Linked DNA regions of Homo sapiens. The protein of the gene in region 1 purifies or fractionates together with the protein of each later gene. This does not show direct contact. Each region holds a gene or a part of one and is shown on either strand. Other genes may lie near its edges.

Evidence for each region. Proteins that work in one complex are often made in the same cells at the same time.
Region 2: the proteins of VIRMA (region 1) and CTNNA1 purify together in Homo sapiens (affinity purification with mass spectrometry; 2 studies listed by BioGRID and IntAct, with this or other methods). This does not show direct contact.
Region 3: the proteins of VIRMA (region 1) and SERBP1 purify together in Homo sapiens (affinity purification with mass spectrometry; 2 studies listed by BioGRID). This does not show direct contact.

What each region holds. Positions count from the first base shown.
Region 1 is NC_000008.11:94,549,947-94,558,433, forward strand, and holds the start of VIRMA (protein virilizer homolog), read right to left. Parts: upstream 3,524-8,487; 5' UTR 3,502-3,523; coding exon 3,439-3,501; intron 1-3,438. UniProt on the Homo sapiens protein: Associated component of the WMM complex, a complex that mediates N6-methyladenosine (m6A) methylation of RNAs, a modification that plays a role in the efficiency of mRNA splicing and RNA processing.
Region 2 is NC_000005.10:138,755,983-138,763,424, reverse strand, and holds part of CTNNA1 (catenin alpha-1), read right to left. Parts: intron 1-7,442. UniProt on the Homo sapiens protein: Associates with the cytoplasmic domain of a variety of cadherins. The association of catenins to cadherins produces a complex which is linked to the actin filament network, and which seems to be of primary importance for cadherins cell-adhesion properties.
Region 3 is NC_000001.11:67,413,403-67,420,844, forward strand, and holds part of SERBP1 (SERPINE1 mRNA-binding protein 1), read right to left. Parts: intron 6,785-7,442; coding exon 6,607-6,784; intron 1,938-6,606; coding exon 1,764-1,937; intron 1-1,763. UniProt on the Homo sapiens protein: Ribosome-binding protein that promotes ribosome hibernation, a process during which ribosomes are stabilized in an inactive state and preserved from proteasomal degradation.

The sequences.
Region 1 (8,487 bases):
ATCAGCCAGGCGTGTTGGTGCACAACTGTAGTCCCAGCTACTCGGGAGGCTGAGATGGAAGGATCGATTGAGCCCTGGTGGGAGAAATTGCAGTGAGCTGTGATCGCACCAGTGCACTCCAGCTTGGGTGACAGAGCAAGACCTAGTCTTAAAAAAAAAAAAAAAAACTGATGGAAGGACCAGAGATGATTTACTTAAGTTATCAAAGCCCACTGTGTCTGGCACAAATTAAGCATTCAATAAATGTTAAACAATGCTTACTGCCCATTGGCTAACTCAGGTTTTCATAACATCTCACTTTTTCTCTCTGATTTTGTCACCTCACCTCTATTTTCTCTGAACCATTTTTTTTTTTTTTCTTTTTGAGACGGAGTCTCGCTCTGTCACCCAGGCTGGAGTGCAGTGGCACAATCTCGGCTCACTGCAAGCTCTGCCTCCCGGGTTCACGCCATTCTCCGGCCTCAGCCTCCTGAGTAGCTGGGACTACAGGCACCTGCCACCACGCTCGGCTATTTGTTTGTATTTTTAGTAGAGACAGGGTTTCACCATGTTAGCCAGGATGGTCTCGATCTCCTGACCTCGTGATCCGCTTGCCTCGGCCTCCCAAAGTGCTGGGATTACAGGCATGAGCCACGGCGCCTGGCCTTCTCTGAACCATTTTAAGTATTATTGATCAAGTAATCTATCTAATGTATCTTACTAATTGTATGATTCGCCTGCTCAAAAACTACCCATTTCCTACAAAATAAAGTCCATAATTTTTATTTATTTATGTATTTATTTATTTTAAAAGACAGAGTCTTGCTCTGTCGCACAGGCTGGAGTGCAGTGGCGTGATCTTGGCTCACAGCAACCTCCTCCTCCCGGGTGCTAGCAATTCTCCTGCCTCAGCCTTCCGAGTAGCTGGGACTATAGACGCACACCGCCACGCCCAGCTAATTTTTTGTATTTTAGTAGAGACGGGGTTTCACTGTGTTACCCAGGCTGGTGTCGAACTCCTGACGTCAGGCAATCCACCCACCTCAGCCTCACCAAAGTGCCGGGATTACAGGCGTGAGCCACTGCGCCTGGCCTAAAGTCTGTAATTCTTTGTCGAGCATTCAAGGAGCTCCATGATCTGTCTTTGAATTGCCTTGGGTGCCACTTCACACTGCTACTTCAAGCATACCCTAACAGACGACTGACTACCCCAGTAGAATGCCCTCCTTTCCTAACTACAACTGTGAAATATTGCCCCTTTCACCAAAGACCAAGTTCATAAGCCAAACACCTTGATGAAGTCTTTCCTGATACACTCAAATGAAAAGTTATCTCTGCCTCTTCTGAAATCTTGTATCTTTTATTTATACCCACAAAGGGAGCTAGTTCTAATACGTCAGATACTGATGGGCATTTTGTAAACTAAGATGATAAACCCCAACGAATTCACACTGTGCTTCTTTATGTGATCATCACATTCTAACTCAAATCACAATTTTGTGAATCTAATCTCCAATACTGAGTTATAACTTCTTGAAAACAAACATTTCAATATTTCGTATCACCCACAAACCCCTACTTCCTCCTTCAAGACTTGATTTAAATGTGATCTCTGCTAAGCCTTCCCCAATCACCCCAGAAGAAAGCATTTACCATCTGCCCTATGCTCTCAAGGTATTCAATGTTTACCTAAGAATGAATAAAAGAATAGAAATACATGATAAACTAATGAAGGCCAATTTTCCTAAACTAGAATAGTACTAAACTAATTCATCACATGCCTCTTTCTCTTTTTCCTTTTTCTCTTTCTTCCTTTCGAGACAGGGTCTCACTCTGTTGCTCAGGCTGGAGCACAGTGGTGTGATCTTAGCTCACTGCAGCCTTGAACTCCCAGGATCAAATGATCCTTCCACTTCAGCCTCCCGAGTAGCTGGGGCAACAAGATCAAACCACCACAACTAGTTAATTTTCTTTTGTAGAGACAGGGGTTGCACTGTGTTGCCTAGGATGGTCTCAAACTCCTGGACTCAAGCAATCCTTCTGCTTCCGCCTCCCAAAACGTTGAGATTACAGGCATGAGCCACTGCGCCAGGCTCTTTCAGTTTTAACTGTTCTCTATTTCTATACACCATAAGTTTGTTCTGATCCAACTACTGCCTCCATTGAGGGTTTTCTAAATCTCGGCTAGAATGTTAGATATAGTCATTGAACAAACAGTGCTAACTGACCCACATTAAATGTCAGACCATAAATTAACTGTCAGTAAGAAATGCTAACTCAAAGTTCTCCAACTTTTGACTTTTACAAACCTATAAACCATTCGTTAAATTAGATCACAGCTGTCAACTTTTTATTTTGCCAAGTAAAGCATTATGATACAATCACTACCCACTATCATTACTATCTCATAAAAGAAAGAACATTTTAAACATTTTCCATTCAAATATTTATTGAGCACCTACATTTTGCTAATACTGTCCTAGGCACTGGAGATACAGCTGAGAAAAAGAGAAATTATATCTGTCCTCAAAAAGCTTGATACAAGAGCACACTTGATAAAAATAAAAGGAAAAAAATAATCTCCAAAGAAAGAACAGTTCTCTAAATTAAGCTTACATTAAGACAGAAAAATGTGAAGTTCGTTTTTTTTTTTAACAATTTCTCCGTAGACTTCATTCAAGTTCATTTTTGGTCTGCTTTCAGGAATCTTTAGTTAACCAGCTATGTTTAATCTACATATTGCAGGGCCAATTGTACATTAAGGGGCGCTCAAGTAGTTTTGTACAGAAATATTACTCCACAACATTCCACCTCCAACCTCAAAGGAGATGTCTGCTGATGAGTTTAACTATAATTCTCTCAACTCTCCCCTCTTCGCAAGTATTCTCCGTGAATGCATCTCATTCCTAATGTGTGAAATCTCTCCGAGAGACAAGTATTAAAGTTTCAGGCCAAATCGGAGAGCACCGTAATCCTAAACCAAGTAAGTGTCACAACTGGGGAACATAATTCCCGACAGAAAAGAGGCCAAAGAGAAAGGATTTAGAAACATCGTGATTCGGAAACCACGAAGCCAACGTAAACTGCTCAGACTCCGGCACTACTGTCAAACACTACTGGCAAACCAAGACCCCTCCCAAACGCCATCTGAGGTAAACCTGAGAACCCTGATCCTTCTCAAGGCCCAAACCTGACAGGAAAAATAAAAAATAAAGCCATGCAAGCAGAAAAGCCAACTCGACCAAAGACACGGAGGGCCCAAGTTAAAGCAAGGAAATGAAGGGGCTGCTGCAGCCCTCCCTCAGACGCGATGCTCACACAGCTCGGGGGAGGGTGTCTGTGTGTAAGCGAGAAATTAAAGAAGCAATCTGCAGAAGGAAAAGTGGAGAACGCCTAACGGTTTTTTTGTAAAGATCCCAAGTCAAGAAGCAGCGTCAGAATCAAGTCGCCAAGCCTTACCTCAGCGCTCGGGTGTTTAAAAGTATCTAAAAATAACAGCTCCATCGCCGAGTCCACCGCCATGTTTGCCGCGGGCGGGGAACAGGGGGGAGGACTTCCGGGGCAGCGCTCCAGCCTCCGCGACAGCGACTCAGGAGAGGGAGAAACAGAGGGACTTCCGGTGACCAGAGCACTAGCGCCGCAAACCTCGGCCTATCCCAACGCATCTTGTTGCCCGGAGTTGCCGGCCCCGCCTTTTCCAGCGCGGCGGAGGGCGCCCCCTAGAACGCAGAGGGGGGGCAGAGGGAAGTGAGATGGGGACTACGGGGTCTCCAGTGGTTCAAACCCTGTCGTTCCTCCGCGTTACAGAGCTACAGCGGTCTCCGGGTGGCGAAGTGCGGAGACGGGGTTTTGGAGACGGTGGATGGAGGAGGGGGAGGGAAAGCTGCCAACTTTGGATACCAACCCCGTACACCCACCGAAGGGGATGTCCCACTTTTTCCAGCGCTGGGAGCAAAAAGATAACAGTGAGCGAGGTTGAAAAGTAAGACATTGATTTAAATAGAAGAAAAACTGTTGTTTCAACCAACGAAGAGATTCTTTGTTTTCTTATCTGTAAAATGTGAAAAATCGTACCTAACCTACAGGGTGATTGTGAGGAGTAATTGAAATAAAATTCGAGGAATTGTGTAACGTGAAGTACCATGAACAATAAAACAGGAGGCAGAATGAAAAGTAAGCCTCTCTGTCGGGTGTTGATGAGCTTTGGAGCAACGAGATAAACTCAGCGGGTTTGGTAGTCTAAATGGCACAAACCCTTAGCAGAGCAACTAGGAAATAGCTTGTAAAATTACACGTGCCTACCACTCTTCTAGGAAAATTCTCGCCCACGTATCTACAAATACAAGAATATTCATAGCAAACTTTATAAGTTGCAAAAGAGCAGGAAACATAAGTGCCATTGACAGAAGTAATAAGTAAATAGTGGCGTATTTATATAATAGTATATAGCAGGTACGAAGAATGAACCAGTGCTATGTTTACTAGCATGAAAAACCCAAAAAACAGGGTTGGTGGGCGCTTTGGCTCACGCCTGTAATCCAGCACTTAGGGAGGATGAAGCGGGAGGATCGCTTGAGCCCAGGAGTTGGAGAACTGCCTGGGCAATATAGCGAGACCCCGTTATTCACAAAAAGAAAAAAAAAAGACACAAACCAAAACAAAACAAGTTTAACTCCTCTCATCGCAAGCCGGGTGCGGTGGCGTGTTCCTGTGGTCCCAACTTCTCGGGAAGCTGAGACAGGAGAATCTCTTAAGCCCAGGAGTTGGAGGCCAGTGGGGACACCCATCTCTTAGAAAAGGAAATAAAAAATATATAGTGTAAAATAACATCTATATATTTAAAAACGTGCAAAAGAATATAAAATTTTAGGAGTGTACATATGTCATGAAATTATAAAGTCATGTATTGGAGTAACTAAAATTTCAAGATAGTGGTAAACTGGAAGGAGATGTAATGGAGAAGAACAGAAAGGCTTCACATGCCTTGGTAATGTTTTGTTATTTAGGTTAATGTTAATTTCACAAGCATGCCTTATATTATTGTTTGTACCTTCTGGTATGTCTGAAATATTTAATAATAAATGAATTTCTAAAGTAAATCTCCTCTCCACATCCTTCCTCAGCCATCCAGTTTCCTCTATTAGCTAGCTATAGTTTATCTTTTATTATTTGTTCTTGCATTGATATTTATTGCTTTTAATATTTTTCTGTTTTCTGATTCTTGCCTCTTTTTTTTTTTAGAAACAGGGTCTTGCTTCGTTGCCCAGCCTGGTCTCAAACTCTTGGCTTCAAGCAATCCTCCTGCCTCAGCCTCCCAAAGTGCTGTGATTATAGGCGTGAGCCACCGTGCCCCCCCCCTTCTTCTGTGTTTAGGCTTATATGCTGTTCTCTAATTTCTACCACTGATGTTTATTTTTATTCATATTTCTTATTTATTACTATATGTATTTATATAAATTTTCCCCTAAGCTCTCCCTTAACCAATGTACTATATAGTGCTTTTATAGTTGTCATTTTTACAGTCTGATTTTCTTAGCATTGATATCCTTTTTTTTTTTACATTTTTATTTTTATTTCAACAGTTTTGAGGGAACAGGTGATGTTTGGTTGCATGGAAAAGTTCTTTAGTGGTGATCTCTGAGGTTTTGGTGCACCCATCACCTGAGCAGTGTATACTGTATCCAATGTGTATGTAGTCTTTTATCCCTCACTCCCTCGCCCACCCTTCCCCGCCGCCAGTCCCCAAAGTCCATTATATAATTCTTAGGAGTTTGCATCCTCATAGCTTAGCTCCTGCTTAATAGTGAGAACATGCCATGTTTTGTTTTCCATTCCTGAGTTGCTTCACTTAGAATGATGGTCTCCAGCTCCATCCAGGTTGCTGCAAATGCCATTATTTTGTTCCTTTTTGTGGTTGAGTTAGTAGTATTCCCATATATATTCCCATATATATATATATATATATATATATATATATATATATATATATATATGTAGTATTCCCATATGTATATATATGTATATACACCACATTTTCTTTATCCACTCGTTGGTCGATGGGCATTTAGGCTGGTTCTGTATTTTGGCAACTGTGAGCTGTGCTGCTATAAACGTGTGTGCAAGTGTCTTTTTCATATAATGACTTCTTTTCCTTTGAGTAGATACCCAGTAGTGGGATTATTGGATCAAATGGTAGTTCTACTATTAGTTCTTTAAGGAATCTACATACTGTTTTCCATAGTGGTTGTACTGGTTTACATTCCCACCAGCAGTGTAAAAGTGTTCCCCTTTCACCACATCCATGCCAACATCTGTTTTTTTTTATTTTTTAATTATGGCCATTCTTGCAGGAGTAAGGTGGTATCTCATTGTGGTTTTGATTGGCATTTCCCTGATAATTAATGATGTTGAGCATTTTTTCATTTCTTTATTGGCAATTTATATATATATATATATATATTTGTTGTTGTTGTTTTGTTTTGGTTTTTGAGACGGAGTCTTGCTCTGTTGCGCAGGCTGGAGTGCAATGACTCGATCTTGGCTGACTGCACCCTCTGCCTCCCTGGTTGAAGCAATTTTCCTGCCTCAGCCTCCTGAGTAGCTGGGACTGCAGGCGTGCACCACCACCCCCAGCTAATTTTTGTATTTTTAGTAGAGATGGGGTTTCACCATGTTAGCCAGGCTAGTCTTGAACTCCTGGCCTCAGACAATGCTCGCCTCGGCCTCCCAAAGTGCTGGGATTATAGGCGTGAGCCACTGTGTCCGGTGAATTTGTATATTTTCTTTTAAGAATTGTCTATTCATGTCCTTTGCCCACTTTTTGATGGGATAATTTATTTTTTTCTTGCTGATTTGTTTGAGTTATTTGTAGATTCTGGATATTAGCCCTTTGTTGGATACGTAGTTTGTGAAGATTTTTCTCCCACTCAATGGATTGTCTGTTTACTCTGCTGATTATTTCTTTTGCTGTGCAGAAGCTTTTTAATTTAATTAGGTCCCATCTATTTACCTTTGTTTTTGTTGTATTTGCTTTTGGATTATTGGTCATGAACTCTTTGCCTAAGCCAGTGTGTACAAGAATTTTTCCTATGTTATCGTCTAGAATTTTTAGTTTCAGGTCTCAGATTTAAGTCTTTGATCCATTGTGAGTTGATTTTTGTATCAGGCACAGATGGGGATCCAGTTTCCTTCTTCTACATGTGGCTTGCGAATCATCCCAGCACCATTTGTTGAATAGGGTGTCCTTTCCCCACTTTATGTTTTTGTATGCTTTGTCAAAGATCAGTTGGCTGTAAATATTTGGCTTTATTTCTGGGTTCTCTATTATGTTGCACTGATCTACATGCCTACTTTTATACCAGTACCATGCTGTTTTGGTAACTATAGCCTTGTGGTATAGTTTGAATTCAGAGGGTGTGTTGCCTCCAGATTTGTTCTTTTTGCTTAGTCTTGCTTTGGCTATCTGGGGTCTTTTTTTGTTTCATATGAATTTTAGGATTTTTTTTTCAAGTTCTTTGAAGAATGATGATGGTATTTGAATGCAAATTGCATTGAATTTATAGATTGCTTTTGTCAGTATTGTCATTTTCACAATATTGATTCTGAAGCAGCATCATTGTCTGGGGTAATACCCAAGGCTTGTTGTCTCACACCAAGGGAATCGAGGATGTGGACACACACATGAAGTGAGGTTTAATAGCACAAGAAAGAGAAAGGAGAACAGCTCCCTCTCTTGAAGGGGGGGAGGGAGAGAGAGGGAGAGAGACAGACAGACAGACAGACATGGGGGCAGCTCCCTAATGGGAATTCTAGCCCACGGGGGAGTGCACCAGATTTTATAGACAGGCTTGAGGAGGCAGTGTCTGATTTACATAGGGCCCACAGATTGGTTGGACCGGGTGTGATGTTTACATAGTGTGCGAGGAAGCTGGCTGCCCTACCCTAATCTTATTATGCAAATAGGCTTTCCACTTGGTCAGTACCATGTTGTCTGCTCCCTACTGCACACACGGTTGGAAAAGAAAAGGGAAGATGGAGCCACCATTTTGAACATGCCTAGTCCCAGGTGGCCTTTTCCTATTGGCACAACTGCTGGCATTCACCCATGCAAGCTTCCAGCTTGCTTGTACATGTGTGCAGCTCCATTTTACAGGCTGCTCTTTGTTAGAAACAAGATGATTTGGGGGCTGCTTTTCATTAAAAGGAAAACCTTACTGAGAACTTCCTCACCCTCACTATCTGCCTAAATAATTTCTCTTTAACTCCTATATCAAAATTCCGGCCCGGGCGCTGTGGCATATGCCTGTAATCCCAGCACTTTGGAAGGCTGAGGCGAGCAGATCACTTGAGGTCAGGAGTTCAAGACTAGCCTGGCCAACATGGCAAAACCCTAGCTCTACTAAAAATACAAAAATTAGCCAGGTGTAGTGGCATGTGCCTGTAGTCCCAGCTACTTGAGAGGCTGAGGCAGGAAAATTGCTTGAACCCAGGAAGCAGAGGTTGCAGTGA
Region 2 (7,442 bases), on another chromosome or scaffold:
AAAGCTTGGATTAATATTGAAATATTGAATCTAATGAAATATTCAACATACCATGAGAGAATGGTAACAATGCATCTTTGCCTAGAAAGAATGCATGTAACAGAGCCGCACAGGGCAAATGCACTATCAAAGGCTCAATCCTTCAATTAACTTGAAATGGGCCATAGTGAATGTGTTTTCTGAGTTATAACAGCACTTTCATTTTCAAGAACAGTCTGTATGTAGTCTAACCTAGTTAATAAATACAGGATTATGTAACTTGGTAATTAACCAGGTTTCCAACTCACATCTTCAATTCAGAATGTCAAATACTGACAAAAAAAAACATAGCAATAAGACACTTTCAAGAGAGTTGATGAGCCACTTATTTTTGACAATATTTAATAATGAAACCTCAAAACAAGAAAATGAAGGAAATTCACAGCTTGATATGATGGAATCAAATAGTCAAAACTAAGCAATCTAGGGAAAAAATTAGCCTTTAAATTAGCAATTAAGAAAGATAAATTTTTCTTCTGTTAAGCCCTTTTAGTCTAAAAAGAAAAAAAAACCTCTTAGAGACAAAAATTACATTAGCTTCCACAATATAGTTCCATCCCTCCTTTTAATAAAATGGGAACATGAAAAAAATGACAGACATTTTAAAAATCACTTCACACTACTCATACAATATTGTTCAAAATGAGCAAATGTTACAAGTATTTAGAACATCCGAAGTTGCCCTGTGAACTGTATTTACATTACATGCATTACTCCAAACTTACAGCTGGTAAAAAAAAAAAACCACAAATTAAATCCCAATCAAAAAGAGGGGTTGATCGATGACAGCCCATCAACAAGTAAGTGGAAATACATGCTAATTTCAAGCTCCATTAGAAATGGAGTTGTGGCATACTTCCACATGGAGAAAAATAAGTTTGATAGTTATAAAAAAAAACTAAAGAAAATAATGAACATTTAAGGCTCTAACAGAGAAAGGGCAATGTTGACATTTTATTTTTGAAGTGTGGTTCTTTGCACACTTGGAACTTTCAATAATGGATAATTCAGTATAGTGCTCTCACAAGTGAGCAAACAGCATGAGACAAGGCAAGTCACGCTGGACTAATTCCCCACACTGTTCAGTCCATTCAATCCAGGCCCACAACATGTGGGGGACAGGGCAGATCACCAAGCAGTACATGTAATATCTTCAAGGTCTGGAAGCAGGCATACTGGTACCCAGGCAAGTTTCAGAAAGTGCTGCTCTATGAGACTCTTCCAGATGTGTTTTAACTTTTTCCTTACAGAAAACAGAAGCTGCTAATAAGACTTAAATCCTCCAACATGCATAGAATAATAACCTAAATTTCTTTAGGACTTCAAAGTGGGCCAGGCGCAGTGGGTCACGCCTGTAATCTCAGCTCTTTGGGAGGCCAAGGCAGGTGGATCACTTGAGCTCAGGAGTTTGAGACCAGCCTGGGAAACACGGTGAAACTCTGTCTCTACAGAAAACACAAAAATTAGCCAGGCATTGTGGCAGGCGCCTGTAGTCCCAGCTCCATAGGAGGCTGCGGTGAGGGGATCACTTTCAACCCGGGAGGTCAAGGCTGCAGTGAGGTGTGATTGCACCACTGCACTCCAGCCTGGATGACTGAGTGAGACCCTGTATCAACAACAACAAAAAGACCTCAAAGTGTGTGGTTTTGGTCACTTGAGAAAAAAATGATTTGGGCAGAGAAGGTAGAAAGAATAATTGGGTTCATGTTTTTCACTACTTATTTATTATCTCCATATAGAAGGCCAAACTCACCCCCAAAATTTTTTTGAGTAAATTTTTTTACCTGTTCATTTTTCCACCTTTTATGCACAATAAAATTCACTCTCTCGTATACCAATCTAAAAACAGCTGTGTGGGCCAGGTGAGTGGCTAAAGCCCGCAATCCCAGCACTTTAGGAGGCGGACGGATCATTTGAGGTCAGGAGTTCAAAACCAGCCTGGCCAAAATGGTGAAACCCCGTCTCTACTAAAAGTACAAAAATTAAACAGGTCGTGGTGACACATGCTTGCAAATCCCAGCTACTCAGGAAGCTGAGGCAGGAGAATCATTTGAACTCAGGAAGTGGAGGTTGCAGTGAGCCGAGATCATGCCACTGCACTCCAGACTGGGCGACAGGGTGAGACTCTGTCTCAAAAAAAATAAATAACAGTTGTGTGATCACCTCCACAATCAAGATACAGAGAAGTCAAATGAATTTATTTTCACAACAGCATGTACCTACAACTAATCCACAGAATATAAGAGTACAAAATATTATTTACTTAGAACACCTGCTTCAAGAGCTAAGTGGGCATCAACTTCTGAAGAGGCTGACGAAGGACTACAGTTGACAAGGCAGATCCCTAACATCCCTGACAAGGAACGTTCCTGAACAGAAATTCAGTACCAAACCCTTTCTGGATGACATCATCACCAGCATGTGGCCTTCCAGAACTTATTATATATCCAACCAGCCCGAGAGACATCTCCTCTTCTATCCAAGTTTGTGACCTGCTATTAAAACCCCCCTTTCAGCTTCATTCAACAGTCAGCCTACAGTCACACCACTTCAAGTACTCAGACAATAGATCAAGAATGTCTAAAGTGGAAAATACCCTGATGTACCACAGGTGATGATAAAGTACATTTCTGGAGAGGAATTTGGAAAAATTTTAAGAGCTATAAAAAAGTAGCATACCTTGGAAATAATCCAAACGTCCATCAACATATGAATGGATAGGTCAGACGTGGTGGCTCACGCCTGTAATCCCAGCAGTTTTCGAGGCTGAGGCAGGTGAATCATTTGAGGTCAGGAGTTAGAGACCAGCCTGGCCAATATGGTGAAACCCCGTTTCTACTAAAAATAAAGAAATTAGCCGGGTGGTAGTGGCGCACACCTGTAATCCCAGCTACTCAGGAGGCTGAGGCAGGAGAATCGTTTTGAGCTTGGGAGGCAGAGGTTGTGGTGAGCCAAGATCGCACCACTGCACTCCAGCCTGGACAACAGAGACTCTGTCCCCTCCAAAAAAAAAAGTATGAATGGATAAACAAAATATGGCATATACATACAATAAATGGAACATTATTCAGCCTTTAAAAGGAAAGAAATCCGGCTGAGCACGGTGGCTCACTCCTGCAATCCCAGCACTTTGGTAGGCCGAGGCGGGTGGATCACCTGAGGTCAGGAGTTCAAGACCAGCCTGACCAACATGGAGAAACCCCGTCTCTACTAAAAATAACAAAATTAGCCAGGCATGGTGGCGCATGCCTGTATCCCAGCTACTCAGGAGGCTGAGGCAGGAGAATCGCTTGAACCCGGGAGGCGGAGGTTGTGGTGAGCCAAGATCGCGCCATTGCACTCCAGCCTGGGCGACAAGAGTGAAACTCCATCTCATAAAAAAAAAAAAAAAAAAAAAAAAAAAAAGGAAAGAAATTCTGGGAGAGGATTCCAGATTCTAAAACAGCAGAGTAGGAAGCACCAAGATCAGTCTCCCCACCTAGACAATTACACTGGCATAATTAGTCAGATGTAATTCTGGGGACTGTTGAAGAAAGCTTGCAACTTCCAAGGAAAGACTGGGACAGTAAATTGGGTTAATTTCAGTCAATTTCAGCCCTTAGCTGAGCAGCAGCTACCCCATTCCCTAGCCCCCAGCCACGGGCAGACAACCTACAATGCATTCCTGAAACAGCTTGCAAGCAGCTTTTGGGAACCAGGATGGGTAATAAGGACCCTGTCCTCCAAATATTAGGGATCCGTATTCTAATTGCTGATTGCTGCTTATAATCAGGGATAGGCAGACACTGAGAAGGATAGCCATTATTGCACCCCCTCCATGACTGCAAGTCCTCCCCCTCCAGCTGAAGTAGACTTCCAGGAAATTTAATGGGCCAAGGGCCCCCACCTCCCTACTTCCTTCATTTTTCTCTTTTTCCTCTTTAGGAGCTAGACTTTAAAGACTAGGATATTCAAAAGCAATCATGAGGGTGCGGGGGAGATAAGGAAAAAAGTTACCATGGTGCATGCGCCCAGGGAAAGGTGCAGGCTCAAAAAAGACCTGAGAAGTCCTTAAGTTTGTATCTCAGGCTGATCCTCAGCATAAAAACAAACTGTAACAAATAAACAAAAAAATCCAGCAAACCCTGGGAATGAGAAGAGTCCAATTTTCAGAGTTAGCACATCATTAGATTCAAATGTCCAGTTTTCAAAAAAAAATTAAAAAGTCCCAGGTCATACAAAGATACAGGAAAGTATGACCCATTAAAAGAAAAAAAAAATTAACCAATAAAAACTGTCCCAGTTGCTGGGCACGGTGGCTCATGCCTGTAATCCCAGTACTTTGGGAAGCCAAGGCTGGCTGATCACCTGAGGTCAGGAGTTCAAGACCAGCCTGACCAACATGGAGAATCCCTGTCTCTACTTAAAATACAAAATTAGCCAGGTGTGGTGGCGCATGCCTGTAATCCCAGCTACTCAAGAGGCTGAGGCAGGAGAATCGCTTAAAGCCAGGAGGCAGTGCAGTGAGCCAAGATCACGCCATTGCACTCCAGTCCGGGCAACGAGAGCAAAACTCCATCTCAAAAAAAAAACAAAAACTGTCCCAGAGAAAGACCAGATGGAAGACCTACTAGACAAAGACATTAAAACAACTGTCTTACAGATGTTCAAAAAACTAAAGGAAGGTATGGGAAAAATCAAGAAAATAATGTATTTTAAAAATAAAAATATCAGCCGGGTGTGGTGGCTCACACCTGTAATCCCAGCACCTTGGGAGGCCGAGGTGGGCAGATCACGAGGTCAAGAGATCAAGACTATCCTGGCCAACATGGTGAAATGCCATCTCTACTAAAAATACAAAAATTAGCTGGGCGTGGTGGCATGTGCCTGTAGTCCAGCTATTTGCGAGGCTGAGGCAGGAGAATCACTTGAACACGGGAGGCAGAGGTTGCAGTGAGCCAAGATCGTGCCACTGCACTCCAGCCTGGTGACAGAGCGAGACTCCGTCTCAACAACAACAACAAACAAACAAAAAAAGTTAGCCGGGTGTGGTGGCAGGCGCCTGCAGTCCCAGCTACTAGGGAGGCTGAGGCAGGAGAACGGCATGAACCCGGGAGGCGGAGGTTGCAGGGAGCCAAGATCGCACCACTGCACTCCAGCCTGGGTGACAGAGCAAGACTCCATCTCAAAAAAAAATAAAAATAAATAAAATAAATAAAATTAAAATACCAGATTAGCCAGGTGTGGTGGCACATGCCTGTAATCCCAGCTACTTGGGAGGCTGAGGCAGAAGAATCACTTGAACCCAGGAGACAGAGGTTGCAGTGAGCCGACATCACGCCATTGCACTCCAGCCTGGGCAACAAGAGCAAAACTCCATCTCAAAAAAAAAAGAAATAGGAGAAAAAAAGAATATATTACACATAAGCTGAGGACTGCATGGAGAGGATTTCATCAGTGATTAGATCTGGGTGGCAAGGAAGAAGAATGGGCTGTAGATGGTTCTCAGTTTGCCCAAATTTGTTATTGGAGGCCCTCCATAATCTGACTGTTGCCTCATCTGTTATCATTCCATCCACAAGCTAGACTCCAGGCAGAAAAGACTTTTTCCTCCTTCACTCAACAAGCATCTAATTTGCCCTCCATGCCAGGTACTAAGCACCAAGACAAGAACTAAGACTCTCAGTTCCTGCCTTCAAGGAGCTTACAAGGCTCCCTTCCTAGCAGTAAAGGCAAACAGGTACATCAATAATAACGTACAGCATAATGTAATGCACCACCCAGTGCTAAAAAATTTGCTACCAGAAACGAAAGTGCTGAGTCTTAAGATATGACTAAAAGCTCATCATGAAAGGTTATGTTGGGAGAGTAGAAGGGAATCACTGAGGAAGCAACTTTACCCTAGGCCCCCAACATCCAGTCCATTTTCTTTTTTTCTGAGTCAGGGTCTCACTGTGTTGCCCAGGCTGGAGTGCAGGGGCATGATCATAGTTCACAGCAGCCTTGAACTGTTTTTAAATACTGTATGCCTCAGCGGCATTACATATATTCACGATCCATTTCCAGAACTTTTTTCATCTTCCCAAACCGAACTCTGTACCCATAACAATAGCTCCCTATTCCCCTTCACCTGGCCCCTAACAACCACCATTCTGTTTTCTTTCTTTCTCCTTCCTTCCTCCCTCCCTTCCTCCCTTTTTTTCTTTTGTTTGAGACAGGGTCTCACTCTGTCACCCAGGCTGCAGTGTGACATGATCAGAGCTCACTGCAACCTCCACCTCCCAAGCTCAAGCAATGAATCCTACCACCTCAGCCTCCTGAGTAGCTGGGACTACAGAGCGTGTCACCATGCCTGGTTGATTTTTTTTTTTTTAGAGGCGGGGTCTCATAAAGTTGCTCAGGCTGGTCTTGAACTCCTAGCTTCAAGTGATCCTCCCAACTCAGCCTCCCAAAAAAACAGGATTATAGGCATGAGCCTCCCTGTCCAGCCCCAATCCATATTTAAGTCCTGTCTCATTTCTCCAAAATACAGCTCCCTTCATCCCTACCACCTCGTACTCCACCATCTTCCTAGCTCAACTCTCTGCTTCCACATGCACACAAACACAAGCCTTCTCCAAGCACTAGCAGGAGTCTTAAAAAGGAAATCAAATCATGAAACTCCCTACAATGGCTTCTTACACCTCTAGAATAAAACCCCAACATGGCCTCTGCCTTCTCTGGCAATCTCATGTGAGGTCTTCTCCCCACTGAAAAAGTACCCAAGCTATACAAGTCTTCTCTCAAGTCTCTAAACACACGGAGTCTTTCCTGTCTCAGGACCTCTACAAATGCAGAGGGCCCTGTTCCTTCTCTCCATATTCTCACCAGCACACAACACTACCCCCAACAATCAGGGCTGTCTGTTATGCCCCACAGTGAGTTACGTTCTCAAAGAAATCCGAAAGTGCGGTGGCTCACACCTGTAATCCCAGCACTTTAGGAGGCTGAGGCGAGTGGATCACCTGAGGTCAGGAGTTAAAGACCAGACTCACCAATATGATGAAACCCCATCTCTGCTAAAAATTAAAAAATCAGGCTGGGCACGGTGGCTGAAGCCTGCAATCCCAGCACTTTGGGAGGCCGAGGTGGATCACGAGGTCAGGAGTTTGAGACCAGCCTGGCCAACATGGTGAAACCCTCTCTATCAAAAATACAAAAAAATTAGGCAGGCATGTTGGCACACACCTGTAATCCCAGCTCCTTGAGGTTGAGGCAGGAGAGTTGCTTGAACCCAGGAGGCACGGGTTGCAGTGAGCCGCAATTATGCCACTGCACTCCAGCCTGGGAGACACAGCAAGACTATCTCAAAATAAATAAATAAATAAATAAATAAATAAGCCGGGCGTGGTAGCTTGCACTTAGTAATCCCAGCTACTCCGGAG
Region 3 (7,442 bases), on another chromosome or scaffold:
CTTTGGGAGGCCAAGGTGGGTGGATCACCTGAGGTCAGGAGTTTGAGACCAGCCTGGCCAACATGGTGAAATCCTGTCTGTACTAAAAATATAAACAATTAGCTGGGTGTGGTGGCAGGCACCTGTGATCCCACTACTCAAGAGGCTGAGGCAGGAGAATCGCTTGAACCTGGGAGGCAAGGGTTGCAGTGAGCCGAGACTGTGCCACTGCACTCCAGCCTGGGAAACAGAGTGAGACTCCATCTCAAAAAAAAAAAAAAAAAAATCCTACTGTTAAAATTCTAGGTAAAATGTATCAAGACAAAATTATGGATCACAAAAAAACTACAAGTATTTGCAATGAGCCCTGTCCTAAATTTCTACCAAGGCCTATTTTCATTCCAGAGTAATAATATGGGTTGTTTTCTTTTTCTCTTTTTTTTTGGAGACAGTCTTACTCTGTTGCTCAGGATGGAGTGCAGTAACATAATCTCAGTTCACTGCAACCTCCACCTCCTGGGTTCAGGTGATTCTTGTGCCTCAGCCTCCCAAGTAGCTAGGTTACAGGGATGTGCCACCACACCTGGCTAATGAGACAGGGTTTCACAACGTTGGCCAGGCTGGTCTCAAATTCCCAACCTCAGGTGATCTGTTCACCCAGACCTCCCAAAGTACTGGGATTACAGGCGTGAGGCAGTGCGCCCAGCCCAGTTGTTTTACTTTTTCCAATAAACCATACAAGTAGATTCATAAGCAATTATGTATGTGAATTCGCATTGTTCAGTATTCTTATACTTTTTCCACTTGCTAAATAAGAATGGCACCAATGTGAAAGCATGCTAAGGAACTAATATCTAAGTAGCAATAATCATCAAGGTTGAAAGTCTGAAAAAAGGAATCCAAACTGCTCTTTATAGCCTAAAGTATAAATAACAGAACTAAAAAAGAAAGTATGGGAAAAGCCCATCAACACAACCACCACCTTAAAAAAAAAAGGTTGGTCTTAGAGGGAGGAACAAAGTATCATTACACTGGCAATGGTAAGTTACCCCTGTAATCATCAAAAACAGACTCAATCAAGTAGGTGGGTCCCCAAATTTGTGTGTAAGGTGTTGAGAATTTAGGAGGACATTATGGTTGTTTCCAAGCATCAGATCTGAGTTCAAATCTATCAATTACTTGGGAATTCACCAAAATATTTCTCTAAGAACTTGTTTTGTGCCACATACTGTTCAAGGCATTGGAGAGATTATAGAAAGTAAGCCAAAAATGAATCCCAGCTCTCACAGAAGAGTCTAGTAAAAGAAAAAAGTGTCAACAATCCTAAGTGTCGTAAGAGGAATTATACAAGGAACACAATGGTTATTAAGTGGAGACCTAAAAAGCAGTTAGGAATTATCAAAGTGAACAGACTGGTTTTCAGGTAAGCCTTAGCAAAGGCCAAGAGTTAACCTGATTCACTATACCAGAATTTTCTCATCTGGAAAATGAGAATGTCATCACAGTAACAAGAATTAAATGACATTAAGTACATAAAATGCCTAGCCCAGCACCATGACCGGCACCTAGAAAGAACTCAAAAGGGTGGTAACTTAACACTACTAACAGCACTACACAAAAAGGCATTTAAGTGCTTTAAACATAAATATAACCTAACATGCGGTTTCTTAAAGACACTGCTACTACTTCTACTTATGTTCCCAAAAGTGACATAAGTCTGACCCAGCCAGTGACTTATAAGAGGTCCTTAAATTATGTAAAAGGAAAAGAAAGTCTTAAATTACCTTGTCGGTCCTGCTGCCACGGTTTGGGCGCCCACCACGCCCACGTCCACCTCGTCCTCCCCTGCCGCCACGTCCTGGGCGGCCAAGGTCTCCAAAATTGATCTCCAGCTGAGACGTTATATCATTTGCTGGCTTCCGGAAATGATGGTCCATAACCGAATCTTCAGCATGAGCCTAAAAATATAAGTGAAGATGATTGTGTTATTAGTAGAAAAGTAACATTGCAAAATTTCTAAATAATGAGCTTTCTTCTAAAAAAAACCAAAAATCCAAACTGTACTTTCTGTGAACAAATGTCTCAATGCCTCCACAGGTAACAAGCTAGGGCTCAGCTTTAGTGATCCTGGAGGAAGATTTTCCTGCACTTTTCTCTATCTCAAAATTGCAGGTAATACCAGCAGTCCTCAACTAAAGACATGTATGCTATCACAATCAACCCAAACGGCTGAAGCCCATCCTAGACCTACTGAATCATAATCTTTAGCAGTGAAATCTGGACAAGTACATTTTAAATATGCCCTTCAGATCAGGACTGCCATGTGAATCCTTGATGAAGACCTCTGGAGAGATGACATATAAGGTTACTACTAGCACTAACACTGAAGTTAAAAAGAACACTCAGAAAGAAAAACTCTGTTCTACACTCTTCCAACTACAACTAGGGTAAAGACCTTACTAGATATAAACTTCTCAGAAGCATTTTCTGTTAATACACAACCACTACGTTTTTCTACACAAATTGGAGAGCTACAAATTCAAGTGAAACACTACACACTTTACATAAAGAGGGGAATCTTGTAAAGCTATGCACAAATAAAACCACACCTTAAATGTGTCACAGGAACCTTTTTTTTTTTTTTTTTTTGAGACAGGGTCTCACTCTGTCACCCAGGCTGGAGTGCAGTGGCACGATCTGGGTTCATTGCAACCTCCACCTCCCAGGCTCAAGCGATCCTCCCACCTCAGCCTCCCAAGTAGCTGGGTCTATAGGCACATGCCATGACACCTGGCTAATTTTTTTGTATTTTTTATAGACAGGTTTTCACAGTGTTGCTCAGGCTGGTCTCAAACTCCTAGGCTCAAGCGATCCGCTGGCCTTGGCCTTCCAAAGTGCTGGGACTACAGGCATGAGCCACCATGCCCAGCTAGAAACTTCTTAAAAATGAAGTCATGTTTGTGAAATCCAGATCCTCTTTTCTATTTGCGTTTAAGATACATGACCCAGTCTGGGGGAAAAAAGCAAAAAGCCAGACAATTCTATACTGCTTCATGCCTGATGTCTTCTTGTACGCTTGGGATGGGTTTTAATCTTCTAGTTGAAAACTGTACTTATAGGACTTGAAAGTACAGCTTTCTTTTCCTCTTTTCCTAAATACATCTAAGGAATCTTCTTTTCTAAAGGGATAAAGAACATTTTGTTCTTTCATTAGAACTTGTACTATTACAATTCCATTAGACTCAACTTAAAATATTACAGCTGTTAATAACTAGCCTTTAAAGTACAAATAAATTTTTGTGTTTTTATCCATGTTTTCACCCCTTACATCAACTCATACTAGTATTAAATGTCACTCCTTTGTACCAAACCAACACACTGTAAGGCAATAGAATGTTCTAATACAAATTTTAAAGGAGGCTAGAAACATAAAAACAAATTCACAAAACACCAGCAAATTAGAATCAATTATATATACTAATTGTGTGATTTTTAAATGTTTGCTATTTCAAACCAATGCTTTCAATTTATTGCAAACCACAGATCGAAAATATTCAGAAAAAAATAAAACCAACCAACCATATAACAATAAAAAGTAGGCCAGGTGTGGTGGCTGACACTTGTAATCCCAGCACTCTGGGAGGCATAGGCAGAAGGGCTGCTTGAGTCCAGGAGTTGGCACAGGTGTGTAGTTCCAGCTACTCAGGAGGCTGAGCTAGAAGGATCGCTTGAGCACGGGGAGGTTGAGGCTGCAGTAAGCTGTGACCATGCTACTGCATTCCAGCCTACATGACAGAGCAAGACCTTGTCTCAAAATAAAGTGTATGAGGGAGTGCTCACTTTGGCAGCATATATACTAAAAGTGGAACAATACAAAGATTATTAGCATGATCCCCACAAGGATGACACGCAAAACTGTAAATTGTTCTATATTTTAAATTAAAAAATAGAAACAATAAAAAATAAAGTATAGGGAAAACGTGTTTAGGCTATATGCAGATACTATGCCATTTTATATAATGGACATGAGCATCTGAAAATTTTAATATCTCTGGGTCCTGGAACGAATCCCCTGCAGATACCAAGAAACTGTACTGGGATAAAGTCAGGGCAGGGGGATCCTTTTTTTTTTTCTTTTTTCCTTTTTTTGAAACAGTCTTGCTCTGTCAACTAGGTTGGAATGCAGTGATGCTATCTTGGCTCACTGCAACCTCTGCCTCCTGGGCTCAAGTGATCCTCTCCCGCCTCAGCCTCCCAGGTAACTGAGACCACAGGTGCACGCAACCACATCCAGATAATTTTTATATTTTTTGTAGAAACAGGGTTTTGCCATGTTACCCAGGCTGGTCTCAAACTTTTAACTCAACAATCTGCCCACCTCAGCCTCCCGAAGTGCTGGGATTACAGGTGTAAGCCACTGTGTCCGACCTTTTTTCTAGAGCACTCAGACAATGAGGAGCAGAAAACAGAAACTCTGAGCTCTGTCAATAACACGGTAACACAGTTCTCCATTTGTAAATAGTTTCTTCCTTCCCCTTAACTACCTCACATTTGTCACGAGAATGAAGACATGTGAAAGTTAAAGTGTTGTTTTTTTTTTTTTTTTTTTTTTTTGAGACAGTCTTGCTCTGTTGCCCAGGCTGGAGTGCAGTGGTGTGATCTCAGCTCACTGCAACCTCTGCCTCCTGTGTTAAAGTGATTCTCCTGCCTCAGCCTCCTGAGTAGCTGGGATTACAGGCATGCACCACCACACCAGGCTAATTTTGTATCTTTAGTAGAGACGGGGTTTCTCCATGTTGGTCAGACTGGTCTTGAACTCCCGACCTCAGGTGATCCGCCCGCCTCAGTCTCCCAAAAGTGCTGGGATTACAGGTGTGAGCCACTGCGCCTGGCTGAAACCACGTGTTCTAATGCAGTTTTTTTTCTACAGGACTTAAAAAAGACAATGTCCTCATTTACTACTCATATGAAGTAAATGTTAAAAATCATCTCTAAACCTAAAAAAACTTTTAATCTTTTTAACCTCCATTTTATTTTAAAATGTTTCCAAGTTTGTCTTATAGCCATTTTGCAGTTTAAAAAATTATGCTTATTGGCTGGGCATGGTGGCACACGCCTATAATCCCAGCACTTTGGGAGGCTGAGGCAGGCGGGGATCACTGAGGCCAGGAGTTTGAGACCAGCCTGGCCAACATGATGAAACCTCATCTCTACTAAAAACACAAACATTATCCGGGCATGGTGGCGAGTGTCCGTAATCCCAGCTACTGAGGAGGTTGAGACACAAGAACTGTTTGAATCCGGGAGGTGGAGGTTGCGGTAAGCAGAGATGGTGCCACTGCATTCCAGCCTGGGCGACAGAGCCAGATTCTGTCTCAAAAAAAAAAAATAAAAATAACTAATACCTTATTGAAAGGGTTTGCCCTCACAATATTTTAATTTAACTTTACCTTAGGATGATAAAACTCAGTCTGGATTTCTGGCACAGCCCAATTTATGATATGAATAAATCAAACACAAATGTCAAAAGGTTAAAGGAAGCTGATAGAGAAAATGAATTTAGGAGAAGAAATAATATAGTTAGGGCTTGTATGAGTTTTTAAAGCCAAACAGGAAGCCGCACTGAAACATTCCTCTAAGAACACACCCCAAAGCTTAAACGGAAGCTACCAAATCAAAAGCCATCAATGTGACTTTCTCCAATACAGTTGACCCTTGAACAACGTGGCTTTGAACATTCTGCCTCTGTCAGTCTTGAGACAAGCAAGCCCAATCCCTTTTCTTCCTATCCAAAATAAAGACCTTTGTGATGATCCAGTTCCACTTAATGAACAGTAAATATATTTTCTCAACATTTTCTTTAGCTTACTTTACTGTAAAAACACAGTATATAATACGCAACATACAAAATGTGTTAACTGGTTATGTTATCACTAAGACTTTCAGTCAACAGGTTATTAGTAGTTAAGTTTTGGGAGAGTCAAAGGTTACATGTGCATTGATCTGCGGGGTCAGTGCCCCTAGCATCCTCATGTTGTTCAACAAGTCAACTGTATTTTCACTAGTTTCCATGTTTCTTAAGTAAAACCCACATATACTTTGGTTTTTAAAGTCGTCATTCCTTAGACAAAATGCACATTGCCATTTACTGAGTGTCCTGGCCATTATATATGGTATAGGCAGACAGTTTCAAAAGTTGAATTCTAAATGAAGTCACTTACATTTTAGGTTAAACCATATGAAAATGTCAAGATTTCAACCTAACACCATAATACCACAGCCCTTTAATGATCCCCAGTTTGGCAAGATTTCAAAAATACAACCACAACTTTGAAAAGAACTATCATATTTCTGAACACCAATAACTACAAGATACTCCACTAACAGCTTTTTAGGAAAAAGTAACTCTACCACATAAAACATAATTACAAATTGATCAAAGGACTAAATTTCTTAGAATATGTGATAATACAGTTTATTTTCCTTATAAAGCAAATTATCTGCCCCAAATGATCCTATGTAAAGCTTTAACAGACAAATAACCCATGTGAAATTTTAAAACAAAAATTATAAATACAATTCAAGTCACATCTGAACATTTTCAAACACGACAAAACTTAATTTTACCTCTTCACTCTTTGATTTATGAAGAACAAATCCCTTCTTCCACTGCCCATCAGCACCTTCATTTGGTTTTCGGATATTAAATTCTACTTTTGCCCGGTCCTTATTTTGAATAGCCTTCCACTCATCCAAAGTCATCTCTTTTGGACCCTCCTCTTTTACCTCTTCAACTTCATTCTCCCTGTGAAAAGGTTTTCAAGTTTTATACCTGGTAGAGAGCTGATATTACATAAAAGTATTTTAAATTTATGATTTTAATTGAGAAAATTAACCTTGTAATCTTTTAGAGAAAGATTATTCAAGGATGAGGGTACCCTAGTTTCCTATGTAACTAAGCAACTTGGTAGAGACCAGGAATTCAGTGTTTGCTAATTAGAGACAAGTAAGGAATATGGAATTCATACTTATGAACTCTTAAATGATCATTTATCAGTAATACAATCTAGAACTGGCTTTACGAATACTAAAATACACATTTCTTAAAAACACTACCTTGTTTAAAAACTACCCTCTTATGTAAAATCCTCAGCCTATCTTCTCCTAAACCACATTTTTAATTTCCATAATTCCCACAATATGTAACTCTTAATAACATACAAGAAGGTAATCCTCTAGGATGTCTGTCAGCAACCAGGGTTCAAATTTTGGAATATAAAAGAACTGTTCCTCTATGCTTTGTTTCAGCAACTAGCACTTAGAGCAAATCAAAACAATAGCCGTGTTTCTACAAATCCTAAAATCCTTATACTCCAATTTTCAAACCAACCTGTATATGGAAAGGAGGCCATGGATTCACTACTAATAGAACTATCCACAAACACACACTGGTTTCATTATTT